Linked DNA regions of Homo sapiens. The protein of the gene in region 3 purifies or fractionates together with the protein of the main gene of each other region. This does not show direct contact. Each region holds a gene or a part of one and is shown on either strand. Other genes may lie near its edges. The genes, in order: RNPEP, PSAT1, OCA2, BRI3BP, CIRSR, ACO2 and CS.

Region 1 (4,288 bases), on a different chromosome or scaffold from region 3:
CCATCTCTACAAAAAATAACAAAAATTAGCCAAGTGTGGAGGTGGCAGGTCTGTGGTTGGTCCCAGCTACCCCAGCTACTCAGGAGGCTAAGGTGGGAGGATCACTTGAGCCAGGGAGGTCAAGGCTGCAGTGAGCTGAGATGGTGCCACTATACCAGTCAATAAGAATTGATCAATTGACTGATCATTGAATGCCATCAGTCAGTGATGTTTTTACTGATCAGCTAGGAAATGAGTATTTTTTTTTTTTTTTTTTAGATGGAGCCTCGCTGTGTCACCCAGGCTGGAATGCAATGGCATGATCTCAGCTCACTGCAACCTCTGTGTCCCAGATTCAAGCGATCCTCCTGCCTCAGGCTCCCAGGTAGCTGGGTTTACAGGTGTGAGCCACCACAACCAGCTAATTTTTGTATTTTTAGTGGAGGTAGGGTTTCACCATGTTGGCCAGGCTGGTCTCAAACTCCTGACCTCAGGTGATCTGCCAGCCCTGGCCTCCCAAAGTGCTGGGATTACAGATGTGAGCCACCACACCCAGCCTGGAAACGAGATTTTTAAAAAGAACAATGTAGGGAGCTTTTTGATCCCTTCTCAAAAAAAAAAAAAAAAAAAAAAAAAAAAAAAAAAAAGAAAGAAATACAAAAGTTAGCAGTAAGAGCTAACACAGCTTACTTACCATGTACCACGCACCATATTAACCACTTATGGAAAGACAACTCATTTAACCTATGTCAAGCACTTAGACTAGTGCCTGGCTCATCTTATTAAATATTAGCCATCATCCCCCCTCCACCAAAATTGCTTACTCATCATCTTTGCTTTTTTGTTGTTGTTGTTAAAACAGGGTCGCACTCTGTTGCTCAGGCTGGAGTGCAGTGGTGTTATCAGGCTGTGAAAGGAAAATCTCTTGGGCCCCCAAAATCACTAAAGAAAACTCAACCTGGGAACCGCTTAGGGCACACCTGCCTCCCATTCTATTCAAAGCCACTACTCTGCTCACTGAGATGGATGCATATCTGATTTGCTTCCTTTGGAAAGGCTCATCAGAAACTCAAAAGAATGTAACCATTTGTGTATCACCTATCTGTGATCCGGAAGCCGCTTCAAGTCTTCCTGCCTTTGCTGCAAGTTGTCCCACCTTTTCAGACCCAACCAATGTACTTCTTACATATACTGACTGATGTATCATGTCTCCCTAATGTATAAAACCAAGCTGTGGGCCGGGCGCAGTGGCTCACGCCTGTAATCCCAGCACTTTGGGAGGCCGCCGAGGCAGGCGGATCACGAGGTCAGGAGTTCGAGACCAGCCTGACCAAAATGGTGAAATTTTGTCTCTACTAAACAATACAAAAATTAGCCGGGTGTGGTGGCGCACGCCTGTAGTCCCAGCTACTAGGGAGGGTGAGGTACGAGAATCGCTCGAACCCACGACGCAGAGGTTGCAGTGAGCCGAGATCTTGCCACTGCACTCCAGCCTGGACGAGAGTGAGACTCTGCCTCAAATAAATAAATAAAAGATTAAACTGTAAGCAAGCAGTTTACTATGAAACTTGCAACCAACTCTACCTGAGAGATAACTGGCAGCCACAGCCTAAGGACTCTCCAGGAAGGATTTTCTGACTCTTACAGACATAAGCCACATAACTCCATCCTCTTATTTCCAATATTTGCCCCGTCCCGAAAAAAAATTAAAGAGTTAACCAACAGTGAGAAGGCCAAATTATTATAATGCTTATAGCACCCTAATTCCAGTTCTCACTTTTACTCAAATTCTTTCGTTAATCAAATCCAGGACTTCACAGGAGGAAACAAAAACAAAGATAAGAGCTTTAACCGTGGAACTAGAAGGCAACACAGAACAAAGAGCTAGATCAACATCTGGCTAATTCTAGAGCCACCATAAAGCAGAGATAAGGTGGCTGATAATCAGGTACCTCGGCCCAAAAGTCCAAGAGGGCACTAAGTGAAGTGCATGAACAACAGGTCATCTAGAAAGCCACGGAAAATGTTAGAAACGGCAGTGTGCGATGAGCGGGAATGCGGCGCAATCTGGACAAGCCTCCAGGGCCAGGGAGGAGACGCGGAAGGACGGAAAGGGTGAAGGATGCACCGCCCAGTGGCTGGAGGAAGTCCAGAAGGAAACCAGGCAGCCCGGGAGGAAAAGAGGAAGCAAGGGGAGGAGGCCTAGAGGCGGCGCGCGGGGAGTAGGCCCCTCTAGGGACGCTCTGGAAGGGTCCTCCCTGTCCCTCCTCCCGGGTGGGGTAGGTGAGGGTGCAGGGCGGCTGGGGGCCGGAAGGGCAGGCAGGCAGCGGCGGGCGCAGTCTGGGGCGCACTCACCCCGGGTCCCTCCCCGACGCGGTAGGTGAGCAGCACCTGGAGGCGCTCGGCGGCGCGGCAGGGCTGCGGGAAGGACACGCACAGGGCCTGGCCATAGTGCGAGAAGGGCTGCGTGTAGAAGCTCACGGGCTCCGCAGGCGGCTCCTCCGAGCCGGGCCGCTCCCGCCGCAGCGCCGCCGCCGTCACCTCCAGGCACGGGTGCGAGTCCAGCCGCAGCTCGGCGGCGCCCTCGGGCTCCAGGCAGCGCAGGTCCAGGACCGCGGTGCCGCTCAGCCCCCGGCTCCCTGCGCCGGGCCCTGGAGGCCCGAACTCAGCCCGCAGGTCCAGGTGCAAGTGCAGCAGCTCAAAGGCCCGGAAGTTGGAGGCCGAGGCCACGTCCACAGCCTGCGCGGAGTGCAGCGGCCGCCGGGCCGCGCCGCTGCCGGGGGAATGCTCGCCGCTCGCCATGGCCGCAGAGCCGTTGCTCACCGGCCGGGCCGCGAACCCGAGGGGAGCCCCGCCCCGAGCGCCGCGGGCCCGCCCCCGCCGCGCGGGCCCCGCCCCCGAAATCTGCTCCCGACCGCATCCCCTCCCTGCGCTTTACCGCCCACTCTTCTAGCTGCACCCGTGCCTCGGGACTTAGGACAAAAGAGGCCGGTGGGATCGTGTGGCCCACGTTTGCCCACCCATATCCTACTGAGGTGTTCCAGTCGTCCCGGTGGGGCACCCTTCTCTGCTGACCCTTCCTGCTGCCTCATCTAGGCAGTGGCGTGGACTGAGCCCTGGCTGGGAAGGTCTGAGTTCCAGATCTCACACCCTGCGATAGGCCAGTTGTTAGAACTGTGTGTCACCTTGGGCAAGTCGCACAAGAAACATGAATCTTCCCGAGCCTTTTTCTGCACCAGTATAATAGAGTCATAATATCTGTGTATCTCACGAAGTAATGTGAGAACTCTACCAGGTAACCTGTCTAACACACTCAGCAAACAGTGAAACCCTGCACAACTTCACGGAATTCACACTGGATCGAGCCTCGTCCCCCAGCAACTCCAGGCACGCCTATCTTTCTATTGTTGGGTTAAGGGACAGGAATCAGCACCGCGCAATTTAAGGCCTGGCTGTCCATCGCATGTCACTTCTATTTCCCTTACTGTATTGTACCGCTTATTGAGCTAGGGTATTCTCCGCTGAATACTTTGTTTCTCTTCTGTACCAGTGGGTTGCAATGGGCCTTCTATGAATAGGAGCTAATCAATGATGATGTTTTTACCGTTCAGCTAGGAAATGAGATTTTTAAAAAGAACAATGTAGGGAGTTTTTCATTAAGGGAAATAGTATTCCGTTCTGTGCTTCCTAGTTTTGTAGAGTTGAAATTATTTTATTTCATGAAATAATGCTTATGGTAGATAATGACTTTAATATTCCATGTAAGTTCAATGTCAGGGTTTTTTGTTTAACTCCAGAAACCTTAGAAACCTGCTTTTCTGTAGCATTGAGAACAGCGCTTGGTACATATTAGACGTTGAATACTCCTATCTTGAAATTATTCAGTCTTCGATGCAATGCACTTTTGCTGAGTATCTGCTAGACACCAGTTGTTAAGCTAAGTGCCTGGGGTACAGTTTGAATAAGTCCGGCACAATTCCTCTTCCTATGGTGTTCATAGCCTAACTCACATTTTAGCAGACGCACAAGAAAACAGGTCACGACACTTCCACGTGCTGCGCTTGATACGGGAAGAAAAGGATGCTGGGGAGCACAACGAAGAGATGCCTAGCCTGATCCTTCTAGTTAAATATTGACAGAGGAAGAGGATGTCATCCTTAGCTAAAGGGTAAAAGATTTTAGGCTGGGTGTGGTGGCTCACGCCTGTAATCCCAACACTTTGGGAAGCTGAGGCAGGAGGATCGCTTGAGCCCAGGAGTTCAAGATGAGGCTACGCAACAGAGGGAGACCCCCTCTCTACAAAAACATT
Region 2 (4,217 bases), on a different chromosome or scaffold from region 3:
TTACGTAAAATAATGGATATGTGATGCTTCTTGCATGCCTGAGTTTCTGGGCTGAGATTTATTCTGTCTTGAATGTCGCGGTTTTCTTAATGAAGTTGCTGAGGAACGCAGGGGCCTTGTTCATTTTGCCTTTTTCTGGAAACTTTGTCCTCCAATTCCCAGATCCAGAGCAGTGCCTCTGCTCTCAGCCCCATACCGCCCACATTCTCATTAGGAAAAGCAAACAAAAGCCAAAGTCCTGTCCAGTTACAAGCCTTCTCTAAACGGGGCAGTTGGACTGTATATATTCCTGGCGCATCAATTTTACTCAGACAGGGAAAATATTTTTACATTAAAAGAAACTAGGTTAAATTATGGTAGAGAATGCAAAATTCACAGTTTAAAAATGATGAAATTCCAGACTTCAAAGGAACTTCTTTCTTGCAGGGTAGGGGGAGGGTATTCTGTTTCAGAACCCCATGCGGGTCTCCACTGGAGTTCTTTTGAGAAGGACACTTCTGTGGAAAAGTTTGAGCAGCTCTGGCCCTGCGCCTGGCCTGGCTAGGGGCCACCTTCTTCTGGTTTGGGCTGCAGCGCCCTATGGGTATCGCGTTCTTGTTAATATCTCCTCACGTTTCTAAACTCACAGCTTGTCAGCGCGGGCGCAACCTGAGAGCTGTCGCAGGTTTCCAGCTCACTCGTTTCCCAAAGGAGGAAATGGAGAATCAGCGACTTTAAAGGACTTGCCTGGCGGGCATCCACGCTTCCCAGGCTATCGCTCCTCCCTGCGTCCTTGGCCACCTCCGTTCTTTAATCCTGCAGGAACTCAGGACCCACGTGCAAATACAAAGAACCGTATCCACCCACCCCCGGCCCTTCTTCATCCTGCGCTTCCAACCTTGGGGGGGTCCTCTCTCTCCACTGGGGTATCTGACGCCCGTGGGGGGTGCTTAGAAAAGTTTGGTAGATTAGTGACTGGTGGTTCTGGAACAAATACATCACAGCCCAAACTGGGGGCTGGTGGTGGAGAGGTGGGTGGATGGGGGCTACAAATCTGCTCGGCAACTGCCCTTTCAGCCAAGAGAGAGGAGCTGAGGTCCTCTGGGGTTGGAGGACTGGAACCGGCCAGATTGCGGGCTCAAGGGGCGAAGGCAGGTTGGCAGGGGCAGCCTCTTCCCGCCGCCCACAATCCTCGGGCGGGCGCGCAGCCGAGCCGGCTCGGCTGGCTGGCGCAATCTCGCGCGCTCCTTGCATTGATCAAAAATGGGGGTTGAAACAGTAAACGCGAGGAGGAGCAACTGCTTCGACTCGGCTCAGAAGCGCGACCAATGGGGATGTGAGCTCCTTCGCGCGAACCAATTAGCGCAGGGCCTGCGACAGCACGGGCCAATGGGGCGCCGACTCGGCGCAGGAACAAGGCGGGGGTTCGGGGCCGGCTGCAGACTCTCACCGCAGCGGCCAGGAACGCCAGCCGTTCACGCGTTCGGTCCTCCTTGGCTGACTCACCGCCCTGGCCGCCGCACCATGGACGCCCCCAGGCAGGTGGTCAACTTTGGGCCTGGTCCCGCCAAGCTGCCGCACTCAGTAAGTCCCCGCGAGCGGGCGCCGGGAGTGAGGTTCAGGCGGGAGCACGCACGCGGGTGGGTTTGCATCCCTGCGTGTGGCAGTCGGATTCCCGCTCCCTGCCTTGAGTCCCCTAGGCGCTTTGCATCAGCGTGCACAGCGGGATCAGCAGCTCCGGCAAGCGGGCTTCGGGAAGAATGCAGTTGGTGAGGAAGCTCGGCGAGGCGTGCCCGTGCAGCTGCCCCTGGCCCTGACTGCTGGTGCGAGGCAGTGCACGACTCAGCTGGCCGGGGCCTGCTGTCCCGCCGGTGCCACGCACCTGCAGACGCCCGGGCTGTGCCATCTCCTGGGCCGGTCCGGGGGCTGGGGCGGGGCGAAAAAGAAAAAGCTCTGATCTCTGCCTTCGCCTCGCGCAGCTGTGCGGCGAGCCCGGGCAGTGTGGAGCGGATGCATGAATGGACATAGTGTGAATGAGTGATGAACGGGAATGAACCGATGACAGGTTTTGCATATGCAGTGGATCACGTTAGCTGAAAGGGATTGCAAACTTAAAGGTCCGCGTGTGCGTGCCCCCCTACGCCTTACACCAGTGTTTGCTTTAGCCAGCACTTAGGAACACTGCTTTTCAGAAATGTAAATTTGAAAACCTTCAGTCCAGCTTTCCCCTCCTTGTCCCCCATAGAACCTACCCTTTCCTAAAGCCTTTCTCCCCACCCCCCTCCTTTTTTTAACCTGCTTGTCCCCTAAAGGCGTTCGAGTATTCTAACTCTGGTAGACTTTGGGCTGCTTAACCCAATTCCCTGTTCATTTCGTTCTGGAGTAAACCGAGTGATTGAATTCTCTCCCGGGCCACAATCAGATCTTGCTGGTGGAACTCACTCTCTGCCTTCCCAGGCCCCAGCCCGGCTCCTCCCCTCCCCCGCCAAACCCACCGTCCCCAGCCCCACCCGCAGTGAAGAAGGCAAAGTCTCCGATGTGCCTTGAGCCCATTGTCAGGCGGCTGCCGCCGCCGTTAGATTTTTATTTTTCTAACCAGGATAGAGCTGATAATATGTTGGAGCAGCATGAGGCATAGCCAAGTATTTTACAATTATCAATTGTTGAGCAGAGTAGAAATCTCCCTGGGACAGAGCCTCCTCTGTGTTGTGGTAAGAACAGAGAATCCAATTTTAAAGGGGAAAGGACTTCTTACTTTTCTAGGGGCAGCGCTCACAGTAGCTGAGAGGACAGGGCTTATTTTTTCTCAGTGGTTACAGTTCATTTTAGGCGAGATTCCCTGCTCCAGCTGTGGAGATGTTTCCTGTAGCCTCCTCCTGCACCCCCCATGTTTTGGAGTGTTCCCAACGTTTGTTCCCTATGTATTTCGTTATTAATTTATTACTATAATTGTAATGGCAATTGTCATCAGTAATACAATTATTTGTTATTAATTTTTCTGGGAGGATTTTTGCCCTTGGACTGCATGTAACCTGGGGGGCAGGAGGGTGAGGGGGCAGGCAGATGTTGCTTTTTATGTATTTCCTTGATTTAGTTGAATTGTAAATATTAGAGAAGCTTTCAAACTTCTTTTGACTGTAACCTACAGTGAAAAACATGTTTACAAAATGACAAAGTATACACATTCAATTGTAACAAAAATAAATGCCTTATGAAATGATGTGTAGCCTAATTACCTGTGACATACACTATTTTGTATTCTATCCTGCTCTAGTCTGTTCTGTTTCATTAAAAAAATTAGTCGTGAGCTGGGTGTGGTGGCGCACGCCTGTAATCCAAGCAACTCAGGAGGCTAAGGTGGGAGGATCTCTTGAGCCCAGGAGTTTGAGGCTGTAGTGAACTGTGATTGTCCCACTGCATTCCAGGCTGGGTGATAGAGCAAGACCCTGTCTCTTAACAAAAAAAAAAAAAAAAAAAAAAAAAAAATTGGTTATGATCCACAAAAGCAATGCATTCTTCAACTGGAAAAAAAAAAACCTACTGGATTAGGGAGGTGTGATTTTTCAGTAGGAGTCTTTAAAACTGTTTGTAATTATTTTGGTTATAAACTTTTATAGAACTATTTTCAATGAATGCTGTCTATAAGAAAGATACAGTCTCAGGAGCAAGTTCAAAGATTATTCACAGATGAATGTTTCTCTTTACTAAAAGAAAAGATTCACTCTATTTTATTTGATCAGCTGGTGCTAACAAGCATCCAACATTTCAGAAAACAATAACACATTCTTAGACCCAGTCGTCAAGGCAGTCTTTTTTTTAATCTAATTCTTTTTTTTTTTTTTTTTTGAGAGAAGTCAAGCTCTGTCACGAGGCTGGAGTGCAGTCGCTTGGTCTCGGCTCACTGAAACCTCCGCCTCCCGGGTTCCAGCGATTCTTCTGCCTCCGCCTCCTGAGTAACTGGGATTACAGGCACCCACCACCAAGCCCAGCTAATTTTTGTATTTTTAGTAGAGACGGGGTTTCACCATGTTGGCCAAGATGGTCTCAATCTCTTGACCTCATGATCTGCCCGCCTTGGCCTCCCAAAGTGCTGGGATTACAGGCGTGAGCCACCACGCCCGGCCTTGTCTAATTCTTTATTGTTAAAATACTGTTTTTTGAGACAAGTTGCAATCCAGTTTAGGTTATAGCTGTGTTTTAATGATGCCCTCCTTAGCAAGCATCTTAAAAAAAAAGGT
Region 3 (2,971 bases):
AGTCAGACGCTTGACACACAATCACTTCGGAGCAGTGTCCCCATTTTCATTCCAAGGTGTCATGCACAGAAGATCAGAAACTGAAGAAGGGCTTCTTCCTCTGGGGCATAGCCATGATACTGATGAGGCAGAGCAGAGGAGACCTCGCAGGAAGCACAGGGCTCCCCCTTGGTCTTTGTTCTCATTACCCTTACCTCACAAGGAATGCTTCACAAAAGAACTGCATTTAATAAACACCGACTGAGCCACAGCGTCCTGCAGGGAGAGCAGGACTGAGGGTATCGAGTGTACGTCTGTGTAATTGATGGAAATAGCATGCACCACTTGCAAAATGGAAAAATCATTACTCTAAGCTGTTAAATATGTAAGATATCCTTAAAAGATACCTATGATCTTCTGCAAGTCAAATTTCTGGACTTTTAATTAATAACTTTAAAACTGCAGAGAAAAATATAAATGGATAAAATGCAATTTTACATAATGTAAACTACTCCAAAGCCTTTTATCAAGGAACAGTTTATTTTAATACATAAAATGTTTCCTTACGAGCAGTAAACCTTTTCCCAGAAAGTCTATATTCAGAAAGCATACAATTTGAATGCTGATTATTTTAACATGAAAAGTGATTACAAGAAAAACAAACTGTGTTTAGCCTCAGGAGAATTGACAGTTAAACAGTACAGTCAATTTTAGGTGGATGTGTGTCTTTTCCTATGTATAGCAGGAAGGGTTTTTAAACATACGTATTTTTCTGGAGGGGAATCTTGAGTAAGTTATCTCACATCTTTCTACATTTTGTCCTTGGGGAGAAAGGACACACAGAGGAGGTCATGGTGTTCCAACATTCGCTTGAATTAGAGTGTTAGTGTCAAGGTCTATTCCACTGTGTCTCTGTAGCATCTCCAGGGTAAGCACCTTTTCTTCTTCAAACAGTGGGGTCAGGGTAGTTTTATGACTAATGGGTTGTGATGGATGAAGTTTCCTTTAGTCTTCGAGCAATAGATGGATGTCTATTAATTCCATCCCACCACCACATGAGCCACAAGGAGATAACACATCCCAACAGTGCAGGACACAACCATCATTGGGAAGCCCAGCCTGAAATACAAAGAGAAATGAGTTATGGCATCTGAAATCTGGATAATCTCATGAGATACGGACTCATAGCTCATGAGAACATGGCCTTAGCACCTTTGCATTTTCACAATGGCCACTACCTTTTATTTCCATAAATCAGGAAGTTAGTTTTAGACTAAATTATGTGAATGCATGCTTCTATTAGACATCCTCCATTGTGTGCAATTTTATTTGAGAACTGCTTAAGGTTTTCTCAAATTTTTAATGGCTATATGGAGCCTCTGTTTGTTCATCTATATTAGACTGTTGGTCTTTCAATGCCATGTGCTGGGCCACCATTTAAATCTCTGGATGTTTCCTCTACTTGTGTCATCTTCCAACTTTTCTTCTCTGGAGATTTCCCAGAGATCCCAGCTTCCAGCAGGCTCCTGAAGTCCCTCACACTTAAGGCCAAGGAGAGCTTGATAAGTAGTGTTGGAAACTAAGGCCAACTGTTGTCTAAGGAAAGGCAAAGGGAAGAAGAAGTTTTTCTTCTGTAGCCGGTGAGGTGTGAGACGTGTGGACAAGGAGGGTATGCACAGATACAAAAGCAGTCATGAGAAGAGAGAAGCATCCCTCATTGTGTGCCTCCTCCAATGTACACACATCTCCACAAATTCCTACCCCAGCTTCCAGGCACTGACAGATGCCACTTGGCATGGGTAATGCACGCTCTGTAGCCATTGCTCAGTGCTGCCTGGTCACTAAGGGAAGCCCCTGCAAATGTTACAATTTTGGTTTCAAAAGGCTTAAGTTTTAGCAGTAAGAGCCTAGCATGTGGCAATTATAAAGACATTCTCTCTTCCCTGGCCATAAGTGTAGGAAGAGGCTACTCAGAAAGAGCCACAGCAAGGGTTCCTCAACAGAGCTACAATTAAACACAAAAACTGATTCCATGAGCGAGACAGCTCCCGAAATTATAGAGTAGACTTGGGCATTTCAAGAAAGTGGTAGGATTCTCTTGGCTTCTCTTCTGAACACATTTTATTTTACAAAACAAACAAAAAGAAACACAGAACATATTTTGGGAAAACTACTTAAATTTCTTGAACTTTATCAACTTTGTTTTTGAAAATAGCTGAACATGTTTGCAAAATGTCAGCCCTGATCATTGAGTTCTGGAAAAACACAACCCACGACAGTGTCTGGTCAACTCCAGGCATCACAGACATCACTGCAAGCCTTCATGGAAGCACAAAGCCTTCGTTCCTCTGTGACAGATTGTGTAGAGTGAGTCAGTGTCAGGTAAGATGCCGAGAATCTCAATCCGGGTGCTGAGACACCTGGCCATGTTTTAGAAGCAAATTTGCCTGCCAAGGGGTGAATTCCACAAAAAGCAGACCTTGCTTGAGAAGCCCAAGACTGGAGAAAGTTCCTGGTGGGTGGTTTTGCCGTGCTCCCAAGTGAGAGCCACTGATGTCTTGAGGATGGCACCAACGCAGAGAAGGAGCATCACCTAGCATCACCAAACATTTTCATTTCACCCAGAACTGATGCAATCACTCAGACCCATCAGAAACCCTACTCTCCCTCACAACACCTAGTCACTGTGACACTCTCCATGCACAGGACCCTCTCAACTGCCCACAGTGCCTTCTGGAATTGGCATCATCACACCTACTGCAGAGGTGGGATGTTGAGAGGTAAGCAGGCTTGCCTGGGTCTCTCAGCTAGTTTGCTCTGGTGTGACAATCCAAATGCATCAGTCTAACTCTAGTTAGATTGTGTGATTAAGAGTGATTAAGAGTGTGTACTCCTAATCACTACATATGCTGCCTCCCTGTGGACATGGATAAATCATAACAATGGCAACCTGCCATTAGTAGGTAAATGACTTACTGAATATCTGCTGTAT
Region 4 (3,500 bases), on a different chromosome or scaffold from region 3:
GTAGAGAAAACGGGAAGGTTACTTCATCCTGAGAGCATGGGATGCCTCTGAAGCTCTTAAGGCGGTAAGGGACAAGGTCTCCTCTGGGTATAAAAGCTGTACACCCTGGGCACTCTGCCCGGGTTAGCTCCTGTCACCCACCGATGGAATGCAGGTGGAGGTGGGGCAGAGCCACCTGGGAAGGGGAGTGTAAGGCTGGGGGTAGCACAGGCTGCAGGACTGGACTAGGAGTGCCCAGCTCAGTTACCATGACCGTTGCTGCCTTGCCATCCGCCAAGACCAGTATCAGTGCCCCCTCCCACATGTAGAAAGGGAGGGGCCGTGCCTCACCAATGTTCTCTTCCTGATTATAAACGTGTGACTAGCACTGCACTATCAAACTGGACTACCCTCCTCCCCTAGCCCACAAAACCAGGGGCCAGCTCCCCTGGCAATTCTTGCCCTGTGCGGTGGGTATGGTGGATGGGCTGGTGCAGCATCAGGTGACACCTGCTCCCAGGCTGCCTTCCTGGATGGCAGAAGCTGGAGAGCTAAGAACCGCATTAGCCTGCCTCCCTCGCAGCTAGGGACTGGACAGAAAGTAAGTTCCACCTGGCAGTTCCCCCATACACACACGACTTTGGAAATTAAGTGAAGTGTTGCAGCTGATATGCATGGTTCCAGAAATGGCAAGGGTCCCTGCACCCACATGCAAAGTCTAGTTGTTGTGGCGGCAGCAGTGGCCTCCTGGTCCTCAAATTATACTACAGTTGTGTGACTTCGAACTCAACGGTTTCAACAGCTGCAACCCTGGACAGCCAGTTCGGCAGTGTCTGAGGCCATGCATCTCTTCCTCAGCCTTTCTGATGGTTCTGTGAGTGTCTCTGTCTCATGAAATCCCCTTCTGCCTAAATAACTAGTCATTTCTTGCACGGATGCCAGTAAGCCAGAGCACTATACCTCTGGTCCATGTGTTTTGCACACAAATTGGCACTCCCACTACCCAGTCGCACCTTATCCTAAGTGGCATCTGGGAAATCTCAGCTTTGATGGGCCATTTGTTTTTTATTTTTATGATTATTTGAGAGGAGTCTTGCTCTGTCGTCCAGTCTGGAGTACAGTGGCATGATCATAGCTCACTGCAGCCTCGAATTCCTCATCTCAGGCAATCCTCCTGCCTCAGCCTCCCAAGTGGATGGGGACTACAGGTGCACATCACTGCACCCAGCAATTTTTTTGTACTTTTTTTTTATAGAGATGGGATCTCACCATGTTGCCCAGGCTGGTCTTGAATTCTTGGGTTCAAGCAACCCTCCCACCTTGGTCTCCCAAAGTGCTGGGATTACAGGCATGAGCCACCATGCCTGGCCTATATATGAGACTATTAAAATAAAAAATGTTCACTCATATCCTCACTGACCAGCCCTCCGCAACCTTCTCATGTATTACTCACTGTGAGTACCAGTTCCACACTATGAGAACCACCAAAATAGAATGACACCTTACGTGAATGCCACCCCTACACCTACCGTCAAGTCCAAGAACATCCAAGAGCTCGGTCCAGACTTTCCACAGTGTCTCCACGAACATATCCACTCCCAGCACAAATCTCTCAGTCAGCCTGGCCAAGAACTGCAGAAACAAGAAAACGGTCATCACCCAATCACTGTTTTCCTCCATCAGTCAAGCAGTGAACTGGGGAGCTTGGGAGTTTATACCTGGGAAGGGAAAAATAGTGAGCCCATGATGAATACCACACATGTGGACTACTGGCCCAGGGGATTGACTTGAACTGGGTACTGATCACAGCCTAACTGAGAAAAACTGGTGAAAACGACCCCTTCCTTGCAAGGGCTGAACAAGGCACCTATGGAGGCTGGGACTCTCTGCAGGGCCGCGTTACGCCGCTTGCCATTGCTCCTGCTGTCTTTCATGCTTCCTCTTGGGTCAGGATCTCTGCCTTCCTCTGCCTGATTTCTCTAAAGAGACAGGGTCTCACTGTTGACCAGGCTGGAGTGCAGTGGTGCAATGATAGCTCACTGCACCCTCAAACTCCCGGGCTCAAGCAATCCTGCCTTAGCTTCCCAAGTAGCTAGGGCTACAGGTGCAGCCACCACACCAGGCTTTATTATTATTTTGTAGAGATGGGCTCTTGCTATGTTGTCCAGGCTGGTCTCAAACTCTAAGCCTCAAGCAGTCCTCCTGCCTGGCCCTCCCAAAGTCCTGGGATTATAGGCGTGAAACACTGCACCGCACCCTGCGGGTTTCTCATTTTTAAAGAGTGGAAGTTTCTGCTCCAAGGAAGCTGGTAATGATACAGCCCCATGCTCTATCCAACTCTAAGGACCCTGAGCCTCTGAGGTCTTTATTTGCCCTCCAGGTGACACAGGGCTAAAGAAACATGAATACAAGGTACAGCCTCATTTTAACTTTTTTTTTTAAAAAATTAGTGATATTGTATACATGTAGCATAAAACTCAAGCCTACCAACAGGTATTCAGTGGAGACTAAGCCTTCCCTCTCATTTCCTGGCAACTGGAATCCCCCTCCGGAGGAACCCTTCCTTAGACGTGCCAGGTGAATAATGGCACAGACATATTCTTTCTGCAATGGCAGCACAGGTGTACAGCTGAGCTGCTTTGCTCATGCAACACTCTGTCTTGGAGATACTCACACTCAGACCACACAGAGCTGCCTCATCCTTTTTAAACATGGTACACCTGGAGCCAGGCCCATACTCATGGATACCTACATGGTTTCCAGCCTTGGCTATTACAGGGGAAAAAACAGCGAGCCCATGATGAATGCCACCAAGTGGTCTACTGGCCCAGGGGATTAACTTGAACTTGATACTAATTGATGACAGCCCAACAACTGAGCAAAACTGAGTAAAACACGCCCCTTCCCTTGTAAGGGCTGACCAAGGTATCTATGGGGGCTGGGACTCTGCAGGGCTGCATCACGCAGAGTGCTGCCATAATAGAACCCACCTACATGGGCCACTCGGCTCACGTGTGAAGGGTAAATGCCTCCGTGAATTGGCTACAGCTTTTTTTTTTTTTTTTTTTTTTTAAGACAGGGTCTCGCTCTGTCACTCCGGCTGGAGTGCAGTGGTATGATCTCGGCTCACTGCAGCCTCCACCTCCCAAGTTCAAGCAATCCTCCCACCTCAGCCTCCCGAGTAGCTGGTACTACAGGCACGCACCATCACACTCAGGTAATTTTCATATTTTTAGTAGAGACGGGGTTTCACCATGTTGGCCAGGCTGGTCTTGAACTCCTGACCTCAGGTGATCTGCCCACCCCGGCCTCCCAAAGTGCTGGGATTATAGGCGTGAGCCACCACACCCGGGCAGCTACAGTATTTTATGTTTTAATTTAATTTTATTTTATTTGGAGTCTCGCTTTGTCGCCAGGCTGGAGTGCAAGTGGCACGATCTCGGCTCACTGCAACCTCCTCCTCCCAGGTTCAAGTGATTCTCCTGCCTCAGCCTCTCGAGTAGCTGCGACTACAGGCATGC
Region 5 (3,500 bases), on a different chromosome or scaffold from region 3:
AAGATAATTCTTGATAAGTCCCATTAGACACATATCTCCCTCCTGATCACATACTCTAACTAGTGTCTAACTGTCCTTTTTACATTTAGTGACAGGGACTGGCTTATTCGCTAGATATAGCCAATTTAACTTTAGGAAAGAAAAAGGGACAGAAGATTGTACTTTCTTTCATTTGTGATAATGTTGGGGTTTATTTTAAAACAACTTTTATGGTTATATTACTGTTAGTTTGACTGCAATAAATACATGGGAAAGTGATTACAAGAACATACAAGTAGTCTTGGCCTCCTTTTTCTTTAGCTAGAAACATGTTTTAATTAACCAGAAGTGTATTTTCAGGTGTCATTTTCCTAAATCCAAACTTTACAAAACTTGCCATATATTCCCCCAAAGTATGTGGTATAAAATATCAAAATAATTTAATAATAAGCCTCTAGACTTAACTACCAATTTATAGGAAATATAAGAGCTAGAGAAACATGTTAAATGGCATCACTGTCCAGAATGTGGGAAATCTACAGGACAAATTACCCAATTTCTTTAACAAATGAATAACAATAGGGAGGGGAAGATAGGTAAATGTTTTAGATTAAAAGAGATCTATAAATCAAATACAATATGTGGACCTTGTTTGTATCCTAATCTGAGCAAACCAACTGTAAAAAGATACTTTTGAGACAGTTTGAGAAATCTGAATGTTGACTATTCGATGACATTTTAAAATTATCAATGTTGAGAAGCATAATAAAGGTATTGAGGTTGAGATTTTATTTAAAATATTCTATGAAAAAAATAAATTTGGAAGTAATAGCTAAGACAAGAATGACAAAATATTGTTAATTGTTGAAGCTATGTGATGTAGGTTTGCAATTTTCCGTAGTATAAAGTTAAATTAAAACACACACACAATGAGAAGGGAAAAAAAATAGATCATCACTGTAATAGGAAGCAAAACTATATTCACTTTAGGGTAGCAATTTAGTTTCAGCCAACAGTGGCATCCTATAAATTAAGTACATAATATATTAAATTTGGGAGAAGGAGAGACAGGCCAGTCAGTCAGTCTGTCCTCTTTCCTTCCCCTTCCCCTTCTTCCTTCCTTCCTTCTTCCCTCCCTCCCTCTTTCTTTCTTTCCTTTCTTTCTCCTTTCTTTCTTCCTTTCCTTCCTTCCTTCCTTCCTTTCTTCTTTCTTTCTTTCTTCCTTCCCTTCTTCCTTCCCGTCTGTCTTTTTTTCTGTCTGTCTTTTGACAGGATCTCACTCTGTTGCTGAGGCCGGAGTGCAGTGGTGAGATCACAGGCTCACTGCACCCTCAACCTCCTGTGTTCAAGTGATCCTCCCACCTCACCCTCTCTAGTAGCTGGGAGTATAGGCATGTGCGCCACCACGGCCAGCTAATTTTTGTATTTTTTGTAGAGACAGGGTCTCACCATGTTGCCCAAGCTGGTCTTGAACTCCTGGACTCAGGCGATCCACCCGCCTCTGCCTCCCAAAGTGCCGGGACTACAGGCATGAGCCACTGCGCCTGGCCAGGAAAGGCATTTCTAATTCAGCCTTACCTAACCTACAACTCACTGCCCCCTTTTCTCCTACTTAATACCATAAAATTGTAGGTGATAATGCATTGTTTGAAAAGAATGATGGGCCAGGTGTGGTGGCTCACACCTGTAATCCCAGCACTTTGGGAGGCCGAGGTGGGTGGATCACGAGGTCAGGAGATCAAGACCATCCTGGCTAAAGAAAAGAATGATGAACTTCGAATGGAGCAGATGGACCTAGTGTTTGCAGTGAAACACAAGTGTCTTTGACTTCAGCTTTAGTCTCCCTCCTATGCCATTTGTGGCATTCCCCTGGGACTGCCATACTATAATTGTGGAGTCAGTTGTATGCCATTTCCTCATAGCCAGAACTTTTGAGTTTATATATTATTCTTTGATAAAATACCTATTTTACAACAGGACATTCTTTTTTTACCTTTCATTGTTTTTGTTCTGTAAAAATGAATACTCTTAGTGAGTAGATTAAGCGCTTTACACACATAATTTTGTATAGCATAATTTACCTTCTAGGAATTTTTTCTTTCCTGAGACTCGATTTCATGGTATTTTTCTAGTAGAGCCTGGGTCTAATCAGAACATGGAACTGTACACAATTGGTATTTTGATACTTATCCATATCACAGCAAAGAAAAGTTTGTAAAATAAATGAATGTTGAAAGCAGTTTCTTCAGTGGACCTGCTTTTCTAAGTGGGAACATTGGTTTTCAATGCTGTGAAGGCTTGGCTGAGATGATCTAGAAAGGAGCCCTCACAAATCTGCATTTTAGAACAAATGCCTTCTTTCTGAATTCTCTAGTATTATTCTACCATGACAAATTTAAGAATAAGCCAAACAATTTTTAAGATCCAACTCCAGCTATAATTGAAATTATTAAGGCACCATACATAAAAGTAGTTATTTTACATTTGAACATATTTGTGTAATCTATTTTATCAACGTATCTGTAATCATCTATTTTATCAACCAAATTTTGAGTTCTCAAAAGATCTGGAGTCATTTCTGTCAGTGTAACTCTACGTAGCCTCTGTCATAATAATGTGAAAGTAGAAAGATACTTGCTAAATATATCTTGATTAAACCTGACTTGTTTCATCTCCTAAACCTAGAACTTTAAACTCAGAACTTTGGTTGATAGGAGAAGGTTTAAGTATAAAAAAAATGTGAATAAGACTGCATTGTGAAAAGTATTACTACTAAGAGCATTTTTTTGTATTATGAAAAGTACCGTAAGATAGTCATGGAATTTGGATAGTGGCCGGGTGCAGTGGCTTACAACTGTAATCCCAGTACTTTGGGAGACCTAGGCAGGTGTATTATTTGAGCTGAGGCATTCAAGACCAGCCTGGGCAACATGGCAAAACCCTGTCTCTACCAAAAAAAAAAATATATATATATATAATATATATACATATGTAAAATATATATTATATAATATATATTATATTATATATAATATATGTATTATATAATATATAAAATATATAATATATATTATATAATATATAAAAATATATAATATATATTATATAATATATAAAATATATAATATAATATATATTATATGATATATATAATATATAATATAATATATAAAATATATATAATATAATATATATTATATAATATATAAAATATATTATATGATATATATAATATAATTTATATAATATAATATATATTATATATATTTTATATATTATATTATATAATATATTATATATATCATATAATATATATTATATATAATATATAAAATATATATGTACATATATAAGTAATATATGTACATATATAATATATCTTATAAAAAGACAATTTCTTATATAAGAAAGTTGAATAGGTACTGGTAAAAATAATAGTTGTTACTCTTTATTAAGTACTATTTGTCGAGCACTTCACTAAGCACTCTATTTACAGTCATACATTGTGAAAGTGTGCTAAA
Region 6 (3,500 bases), on a different chromosome or scaffold from region 3:
GAATATTCACAATCAAGAAGAATTTTTAAAACTCCTAATCTCAACCCCCAGCCAGGAGCAAGCTCTTAGAGCTCTTGGAGAGGTGTGCTGTGTTTCTGTGTATTGTGTGCATAGATTTTCCCGTTTTACATTTTATATCACCCATGCTGCTTTATGTGACTTTTCATGCTTTACACATGCAGACGCCCTGGCATGCCAGTCACTGGCATCTGCTGCTGCTGGGTACAGTGTGGCTGTGAAGAGCATGGAGCCTGGAGCCAGATGGCCTGGGCTTGAATCCTGGCTCTGCCACCTAACAGCCACTAACAGCTGAGTGACCCTGAGCAAACTACTTCACTGTCTATGTGTGGGTTCCCCATCTGTAAAACAGGAGTCATGATCGTACTGACACCTTTGAAGGTGGTGTTGGGCCTACTGCTGCTATCACCAATGAGAAAAATAAATAAAAAATAAAGTTGTCTGGAGAAGTGACAATATGTGAAAAGAGATTTCTATACCGTCTGGCCGAAAATAAGGGCAATATAATGTGTTCGCCCTTATTCATTGAAGTAATTTTAAGAAAAAAAATATTTGGTGGTTTAATAATTAGAAAGTAAATTACTAAATTAATAAAAGAAACTATCTTGGCTGGTTATATGGGCTTTTGCCAGTAATCCCAACCCTTTTTTTTTTTTTTGAGACAGAGTCTTGCTCTGTCACCCAGGCTGGAGTGCAGTGGCACAATCTCGGCTCACTGCAGCCTCCGCCTCCCAGGTTCAAGCAGTTCTGCCTCAGCCTCCCGAGTAGCTGGGACTACAGGCGCCCGCCACCATGCCTGGCTAATTTTTGTATTTTTAGTAGAGATGGGGGTTTCACTGTGTTAGCCAGGCTAGTCTGGAACTCCTGACCTCAAGTGATCTGCCTGCCTCGGCCTCTCAAAGTTGTGGGATTACAGGTGTGAGCCACCGCGCCTGGCCAGTCCCAACACTTTGAGAGGCTGAGGCAGGAGGATCATTTGATCCCAGGAGTTCAAGAGCAGCCTGGGCAACATGGTGAGACTTTGTCTCTACAAAAACAATTTATTGAATTAGCCAGGTGTGGTGGTACTCACCTGTGGGTCCCAGCTACTCAGGAAGTTGAGGCAGGAGGAGTTGCTTGAGCCCCAGGAGTTAGAGACTGCAGTGAGCAAGCCTCGACTGTGCCCTTGCACTCCAGCCTGGGCGACAGAGCAAGACCCCATCTCAACAACAACAAAAAGAGACTGTCTAGACAGAAAGTGCGATGTTATTCAGGTTTTATAGACTTTTTAAAAAGAACTCTTATTGCCCTGATTATAAAACAATCTTTAAAACCCAGAAAATACTAGAAAGTATAAAAGAAGAAAATTAGCATCTCCTGTCAGCCCCAGCCCATCAAGGATGGCTGTTCGTATGAGCCCTCTGACGTGCCTACACGTGTACATGATATTGCTGTAAAAGGGGTCATAGTCCTAATGTGTTCAGCATCATGGCCAATGGCTACAGCATCTTTCTTCAAATGACGCCACGTCATGAGTTAGCCTGTCCTTTATTGTTGGATATTTCGGTTGCTTGCAACTGGTCTCTGTTAAAAAAGTCTCTGGCCCAGCCCAGATGGTGAACTCTTTTGGCCAAGTCTGGATAATTTGAAGTCAGGTGGAGACCTCTGCTCACTGTCTCCTCCTGACCCTTAACCCCACCACCCACAATGCACCAGGTCTAATTGGTAGCTGCACCAATTCAAGCTATGAAGATATGGGGCGCTCAGCAGCTGTGGCCAAGCAGGCACTGGCCCATGGCCTCAAGTGCAAGTCCCAGTTCACCATCACTCCAGGTTCCGAGCAGATCCGCGCCACCATTGAGCGGGACGGCTATGTGAGTGCCCATATCCCCCTGCCCATCTCCCCCACCCCATGCTGAGTAATGCCTCCAGGCGGCACAAGCCCAGAGGCCTGTTGGGCCGGGGCTGGGGCAGGTCCCAGTGGCTGCCCTGGGGTTCCAGTACAGCACTTCGTCCTGCAGCCACCACATCACCCCTTCCCATCAGACTCTCACCCACCCTTGACATTCTGTCTTCCTCTCTCCCTGGCAGGCACAGATCTTGAGGGATCTGGGTGGCATTGTCCTGGCCAATGCTTGTGGCCCCTGCATTGGCCAGTGGGACAGGTAAGAGGCGTATCTTTTGACAAGACAGCCCCTTGTGCACAGGGTACAGAGCCCCAGAAGTTGGAGGGGGAATTATTGGGGTGGAGAGAAGAGACTCCAGCCAAGGTCTCTAGCTCCAGGGACTCTTGCCCATTAGAAGCCTCTGGCAGACATGCCTGGGAAGAGGGGCTGGGTGAGGAAGGGCCCTGCAGAGGCACTGGGGGGCAACTTGGCTGAAGCCTGGGCTGGCAGGAGGAAGCCAGCGCGGCCTCACCCTGACGGACACAGCAGGAGCCGTTTGGGAGGAGGCAGTGCCCCAGGTCAGGAAACTCAGGCCTTGACCAAGGCCTTGCCTCTGGCTTACGTGTGGTTGCAGGCTGGGCCCAGTGATCCTGAGGTTCCCTTCTGCTCTGCGCGTGGCCCCAGGAGGAGGCAACCCTGGCAGGGCCTCTTCATTTTCCCTCGGTAGGAGCTAGGCTGGGCTGCGCCACAGGAACCCAGCTTATCTGTCCTCGGGACAGGCCAGGTGACAAGGCCAGATATCCCTAACCCTGATCCCTCTGACCTGGCAGGAAGGACATCAAGAAGGGGGAGAAGAACACAATCGTCACCTCCTACAACAGGAACTTCACGGGCCGCAACGACGCAAACCCCGAGACCCATGCCTTTGTCACGTCCCCAGAGGTGAGACTGCCCAGCTGCGCACAAGCCTGGGATGGCCTCTGGGGGTCCCTGGCGGGTCAGAGGAGGAGGCAGAAGGAGATGGGGACTGGGGTCATCCAAGTGGTAGCCAGGAGCTACAGGCCTTCCCAGCCTCAGGCGCATGCTTGGTGCTTCCTGCCTGGGGCTCCCTGGGTCATGGGATTATGAGATATTTATACAGTGGTTTGTGCTTATGAGCATGGAATTTGGAATCTCACTCACTGCCTAGGACACATCCCAGCCCTGCCTCTAACTCGCTGTATGAGTGTGGCCAAGTCACTTACCTTCTCTGTGTCCCCGTAATCCTCGGGATTACCTGGGAAAGTGCGTGGGACACATGCAGTTTCCAACCCCAGGTAGGAGTTCCACAAAAGCGAGGCCTTTGCCATTGTTCCCGTGGCCAGAGTGAGCCTTGCCCTTGGCGGTATTCAGCCCTGGCCGTGACTGGCACATGGCCAGGCTCTCTTGACTTGGTTGTTTATCTGCGTGTTCTACAAATATGTCTTGCTAAATGGGTGAAGGAATGGCTCCTTCCATGTTTTTAGTGTCCTGCGCACTGAGCAGGTTTGCATCATACCAGCATTTCTGCGCCAGGGCCCCCACTCCCTCCAGGATAGCTGTGAGGAGAGAGAACAGCACTGCCGGCCCGGCCCTGCA
Region 7 (3,500 bases), on a different chromosome or scaffold from region 3:
GGTGGTGCGCACCTGTAGTCCCAGCTACCGGGGAGGCTGAGGCAGGAGAATCGCTTGAACCCAGGAGGCAGAGGTTGTGGTGAGCTGAGATTGTGTCACTGCACTCCAGCCTGGGCAACAGAGCGAGACTCCATCTCAAAAAACAAAACAAAACAAACAAACAAAAAGGCCCAGGGTGGTGGCTCACGCCTATAATCCCAGCACTTTGGGGAAGAGGTGGGCGAATCACCTGAGGTCAGGAGTTCTGGACCAGCCGTTCTAGACCAGCCTAGCCAACATGGTGAAACTCTATTAAAAAGACAAGGCCAGGCGTGGTGGCTTAAGCCTGTAATCCCAGCACTTTGGGAGGCCGAGGTGGGCAGATCACGAGGTCAGAGGTTCGAGACCAGCCTGGCCAACATAGTGAAACCCTGTCTCTACTAAAAATACAAAAAGTTAGCTGGGTGTGGTGGTGTGCGCCTGTAATCCTAACTACTCGGGAGGCTGAGGCAGGAGAATTGTGTGAACCCAGGAGGTGGAGGTTGCAGTGAGCTGAGATCGTGCCATTGCACTCCAACCTGGGTGACAGTGCAAGACACCGTCTCCCAAAAAAAACAAAAAAAAAAAACAAAAAAATTAGCCAGGAGTGGTGGTGTGCGCCTGTAATGCCAGCTAGACATGGTGGCATGTGCCTGTAGTCCTTGTTACTTGGGAGGCTGAGGCAGGAGGATCACTTGAGTCCAGGAGTTCAAGGTTACAGTGAGCTATGATCATGCCACTGCATCCTGGCCTGGGTGATTAGAGAGAGACCTATTTCTAAAAAAATAAAAATAAAAATGGCTGGGCACGGTGGTTCACATGCCATTTCACTCCAGCCTGGGTGACACAGCGAGACTCCATCTCAAAAAAATAAATAAATAAATAAAATGAAAAACAAAATATTAAGATTATATGACCTTTTGTACCTGCTAATGTGTGCAGGTACAAATATACACATTCATACCACCTAAAGTGTTTATAAATAAGCCTTTATAAATAAATGCTTTATGTGGTGTGAATGTGTATATTTTGCATCATTCTGATACCAACTCCCCAATGCCAACCAAGTTAATATCAATTTTAAATGCTCTCTGTCTTCCTCAACTGCAAACACAATTCTCTACACACAGTTGGTGCCAAATTAATATTGACCAACTAAATCAATCTAGATTTGCCAAGGACCCAAGGTGGTTGCATCAGAGCAGTGGGTCATGCTCTTCTGTGTCTTGCACCACAGTGAACTCTTTAGGGCCTTCCTGGTGGCTGGCACCTCCTGGCCAAAAATCATTTAATGTACCTGCTTTGTAAAAAGAAAATTTTCTGTTCCTATACTACCTATCTCCAAATAAGGAACAAAAGAAAATGGTACATTCTCCTGTAAACCTAGCCAGATCATTTGTACTTTTACCCAGTGTTTCTGAGTTTGTGGGGTACTAGAAGAGGATGGAAGGAATTATGTACTATGCATTGGGATAAGAAACAATCTTTCCATACCCCAACCAGCGTTGTAAACTATTAAGGACACTTTTCATTTTCAGAGAATAAAGCTCATTTGTTTCTGGATCTGGAGCCTACTCCAAGGATACTAACCACTCTCCCACTCCTGATGGGTATCTTAGGTTGGCTAGCCGAGAACATGACTGACTGGCATTAGTCCTCCTAGACTCCAGAGTTGCAATTGCTGTTCTCCCAACTTGTAAGATTTCTCAAAGTTTTCTGTATTTGAAGAAGATAGTGAGGGAAAGTGACCCTCTGGTGCTAGCATGAGACTGCTCTGTGAAACCTTCCTCAGGGACCCTGCAGTTAAGTCACATCCTTTTCTTTTCTTGTTTTCTCCTTTTTTATGTACAGATAGGATCTCACTATGTTGCCCAGGCTGATCTCAAACTCCTGGCCTTAAGCAATCCTCCCACCTCAGCATCATGACTCACTGGGATTATAGGTGTGAGCCACCTACCTAGGTCTCTTTTCCGTTTCAACAGCCATGTGTACATACCTCTGTTACAGCAAGACTATGGAATTTTTTTTTAGATGGAGTCTCACTCTGTTGCCCAGGCTGGAGTGCAGTGGTGCGATCTCGGCTCACTGAAACCTCCACCTCCCAGGTTCAAGTGATTCTTCTGCCTCAGCCTCCTGAGTAGGTGGGATTACAGGCGCCCGGCATCACGCCTGGCTAATTTTTGTATTTTTAGTAGAGATGGGGTTTCACCATATTGGCCAGACTAGTCTTGAACTCCTGACCTCGTGATCTGCCCGCCTTGGCCTCCCCAAGTGCTGGGATTATAGGCATGAGCCACTGTGCCCGGCCGACTATGGAATTTTAATAATTTCTTTTTTCTGCACGTGTGTCAGCCTAACCAAACAAACAGTCCTGGTGATAGAAACCATGCTCTACTTAGCTTTGTAATTCCAACAACTGACAAAAAACAAGCCTCCAATGAAAATCTGTTAAGTTAGTTTCTGATTAACTCAGAGGTAATTTTTCTAAAGATTCTGTATTTTTTCCCTCCCTTCACACTCAAGTCCTTTGAATCCCCATCACACACCGATCACCCCACCCAAATTTCCTACCTCCCAGTACTTGGTTCGGCTGATACCCTGTGCATATGCTCGGGCAAAGTTACTTTCACTGTTGAGGGCTGTAACAGCTGCACTGAGCTGAGACATGGGGTGTAGATTGGTGGGAAAGTTGTCCAGCATGGTGACCACATGGGAAGGCAGAGCTGCCCTCTTTGCCCACTCTTTTGAGAGCCAAGATACCTGTGGAAAAAGAGACAGTGCTCAGAACACCAGCAAGGACAAGGAAGGAGAAAAATAAAAAAGGACAGCAACATCTGAGTAAAGAAAACCCAAGAGAGGTCAACCCAATCCATTTATACAGCAGAACTCTGCTGATTCCTTCCCTTCACTACGCATCTCTATAAATGCCGGATCAGCATTAAGTGTCTGAGATTAGAGAAAGGCAATGAAGAAGGGGAATGAGAAGAGCTAATAATATCCTTCTGCTTTACCTGTTCCTCTGTTGGGATATGTCCAGTTACCAGCAGCCAAAATAAGCCCTCAGGCAGGGGTTCTTCCCCACCCTTAGCCTTGGGTAGCAGTTTCTGGCATTCAGGGATACTAAAGCCTCGGAAACGGATGCCCTTGAGAGAGGAGAGAGAGAATTACAACTCAAGTTTATAGCCTAGAAGTCACACGACTGGTCTTACTCATCAGACCTTACAACAAGTTAGAGTAGAACTTTTTATGTTAATTATTATTTCTGTAGAGGTGGGGTCTTGCTATGTTGCTCAGACTGGTCCCGATCTTCTGGCCTCACGCAATGCTCCACCTTGGCCTCCAAAAGTGCTAGGATTACAGGGGCAAGCCATCATGCCTAGCCCAGAATACAATTTTTAATTTTCTTTTTTTTTGAGACGGAGTCTCACACTGTCGCCCAGGCTGGAGTGCAGTGGTGCGATCTCGGCTCACTGCAAACTCCG

Evidence for each region.
Region 1: the proteins of OCA2 (region 3) and RNPEP purify together in Homo sapiens (affinity purification with mass spectrometry; one large-scale study listed by BioGRID and IntAct). This does not show direct contact.
Region 2: the proteins of OCA2 (region 3) and PSAT1 purify together in Homo sapiens (affinity purification with mass spectrometry; one large-scale study listed by BioGRID and IntAct). This does not show direct contact.
Region 4: the proteins of OCA2 (region 3) and BRI3BP purify together in Homo sapiens (affinity purification with mass spectrometry; one large-scale study listed by BioGRID and IntAct). This does not show direct contact.
Region 5: the proteins of OCA2 (region 3) and CIRSR purify together in Homo sapiens (affinity purification with mass spectrometry; one large-scale study listed by BioGRID and IntAct). This does not show direct contact.
Region 6: the proteins of OCA2 (region 3) and ACO2 purify together in Homo sapiens (affinity purification with mass spectrometry; one large-scale study listed by BioGRID and IntAct). This does not show direct contact.
Region 7: the proteins of OCA2 (region 3) and CS purify together in Homo sapiens (affinity purification with mass spectrometry; one large-scale study listed by BioGRID and IntAct). This does not show direct contact.

Annotation. Positions count from the first base shown.
Region 1 is NC_000001.11:201,981,160-201,985,447, reverse strand, and holds the start of RNPEP (aminopeptidase B), read right to left. Parts: upstream 2,801-4,288; 5' UTR 2,782-2,800; coding exon 2,335-2,781; intron 2,088-2,334; exon of another isoform or gene 1,986-2,087; coding exon of another isoform or gene 1,932-1,985; intron 1-1,931. UniProt on the Homo sapiens protein: Exopeptidase which selectively removes arginine and/or lysine residues from the N-terminus of several peptide substrates including Arg(0)-Leu-enkephalin, Arg(0)-Met-enkephalin and Arg(-1)-Lys(0)-somatostatin-14.
Region 2 is NC_000009.12:78,295,708-78,299,924, forward strand, and holds the start of PSAT1 (phosphoserine aminotransferase), read left to right. Parts: upstream 1-1,417; 5' UTR 1,418-1,503; coding exon 1,504-1,563; intron 1,564-4,217. UniProt on the Homo sapiens protein: Involved in L-serine biosynthesis via the phosphorylated pathway, a three-step pathway converting the glycolytic intermediate 3-phospho-D-glycerate into L-serine.
Region 3 is NC_000015.10:27,754,375-27,757,345, forward strand, and holds the end of OCA2 (P protein), read right to left. Parts: intron 1,099-2,971; coding exon 1,014-1,098; coding exon of another isoform or gene 985-1,013; 3' UTR 501-984; downstream 1-500. UniProt on the Homo sapiens protein: Contributes to a melanosome-specific anion (chloride) current that modulates melanosomal pH for optimal tyrosinase activity required for melanogenesis and the melanosome maturation. One of the components of the mammalian pigmentary system.
Region 4 is NC_000012.12:125,010,645-125,014,144, reverse strand, and holds part of BRI3BP (BRI3-binding protein precursor), read right to left. Parts: intron 1,612-3,500; coding exon 1,509-1,611; intron 1-1,508. UniProt on the Homo sapiens protein: Involved in tumorigenesis and may function by stabilizing p53/TP53.
Region 5 is NC_000002.12:174,354,213-174,357,712, reverse strand, and holds part of CIRSR (corepressor interacting with RBPJ 1), read left to right. Parts: intron 1-3,500. UniProt on the Homo sapiens protein: May modulate splice site selection during alternative splicing of pre-mRNAs. Regulates transcription and acts as corepressor for RBPJ. Recruits RBPJ to the Sin3-histone deacetylase complex (HDAC). Required for RBPJ-mediated repression of transcription.
Region 6 is NC_000022.11:41,521,117-41,524,616, forward strand, and holds part of ACO2 (aconitate hydratase, mitochondrial precursor), read left to right. Parts: intron 1-1,713; coding exon 1,714-1,871; intron 1,872-2,088; coding exon 2,089-2,162; intron 2,163-2,713; coding exon 2,714-2,825; intron 2,826-3,500. UniProt on the Homo sapiens protein: Catalyzes the isomerization of citrate to isocitrate via cis-aconitate.
Region 7 is NC_000012.12:56,279,831-56,283,330, forward strand, and holds part of CS (citrate synthase, mitochondrial precursor), read right to left. Parts: intron 3,162-3,500; coding exon 3,030-3,161; intron 2,779-3,029; coding exon 2,590-2,778; intron 1-2,589. UniProt on the Homo sapiens protein: Key enzyme of the Krebs tricarboxylic acid cycle which catalyzes the synthesis of citrate from acetyl coenzyme A and oxaloacetate.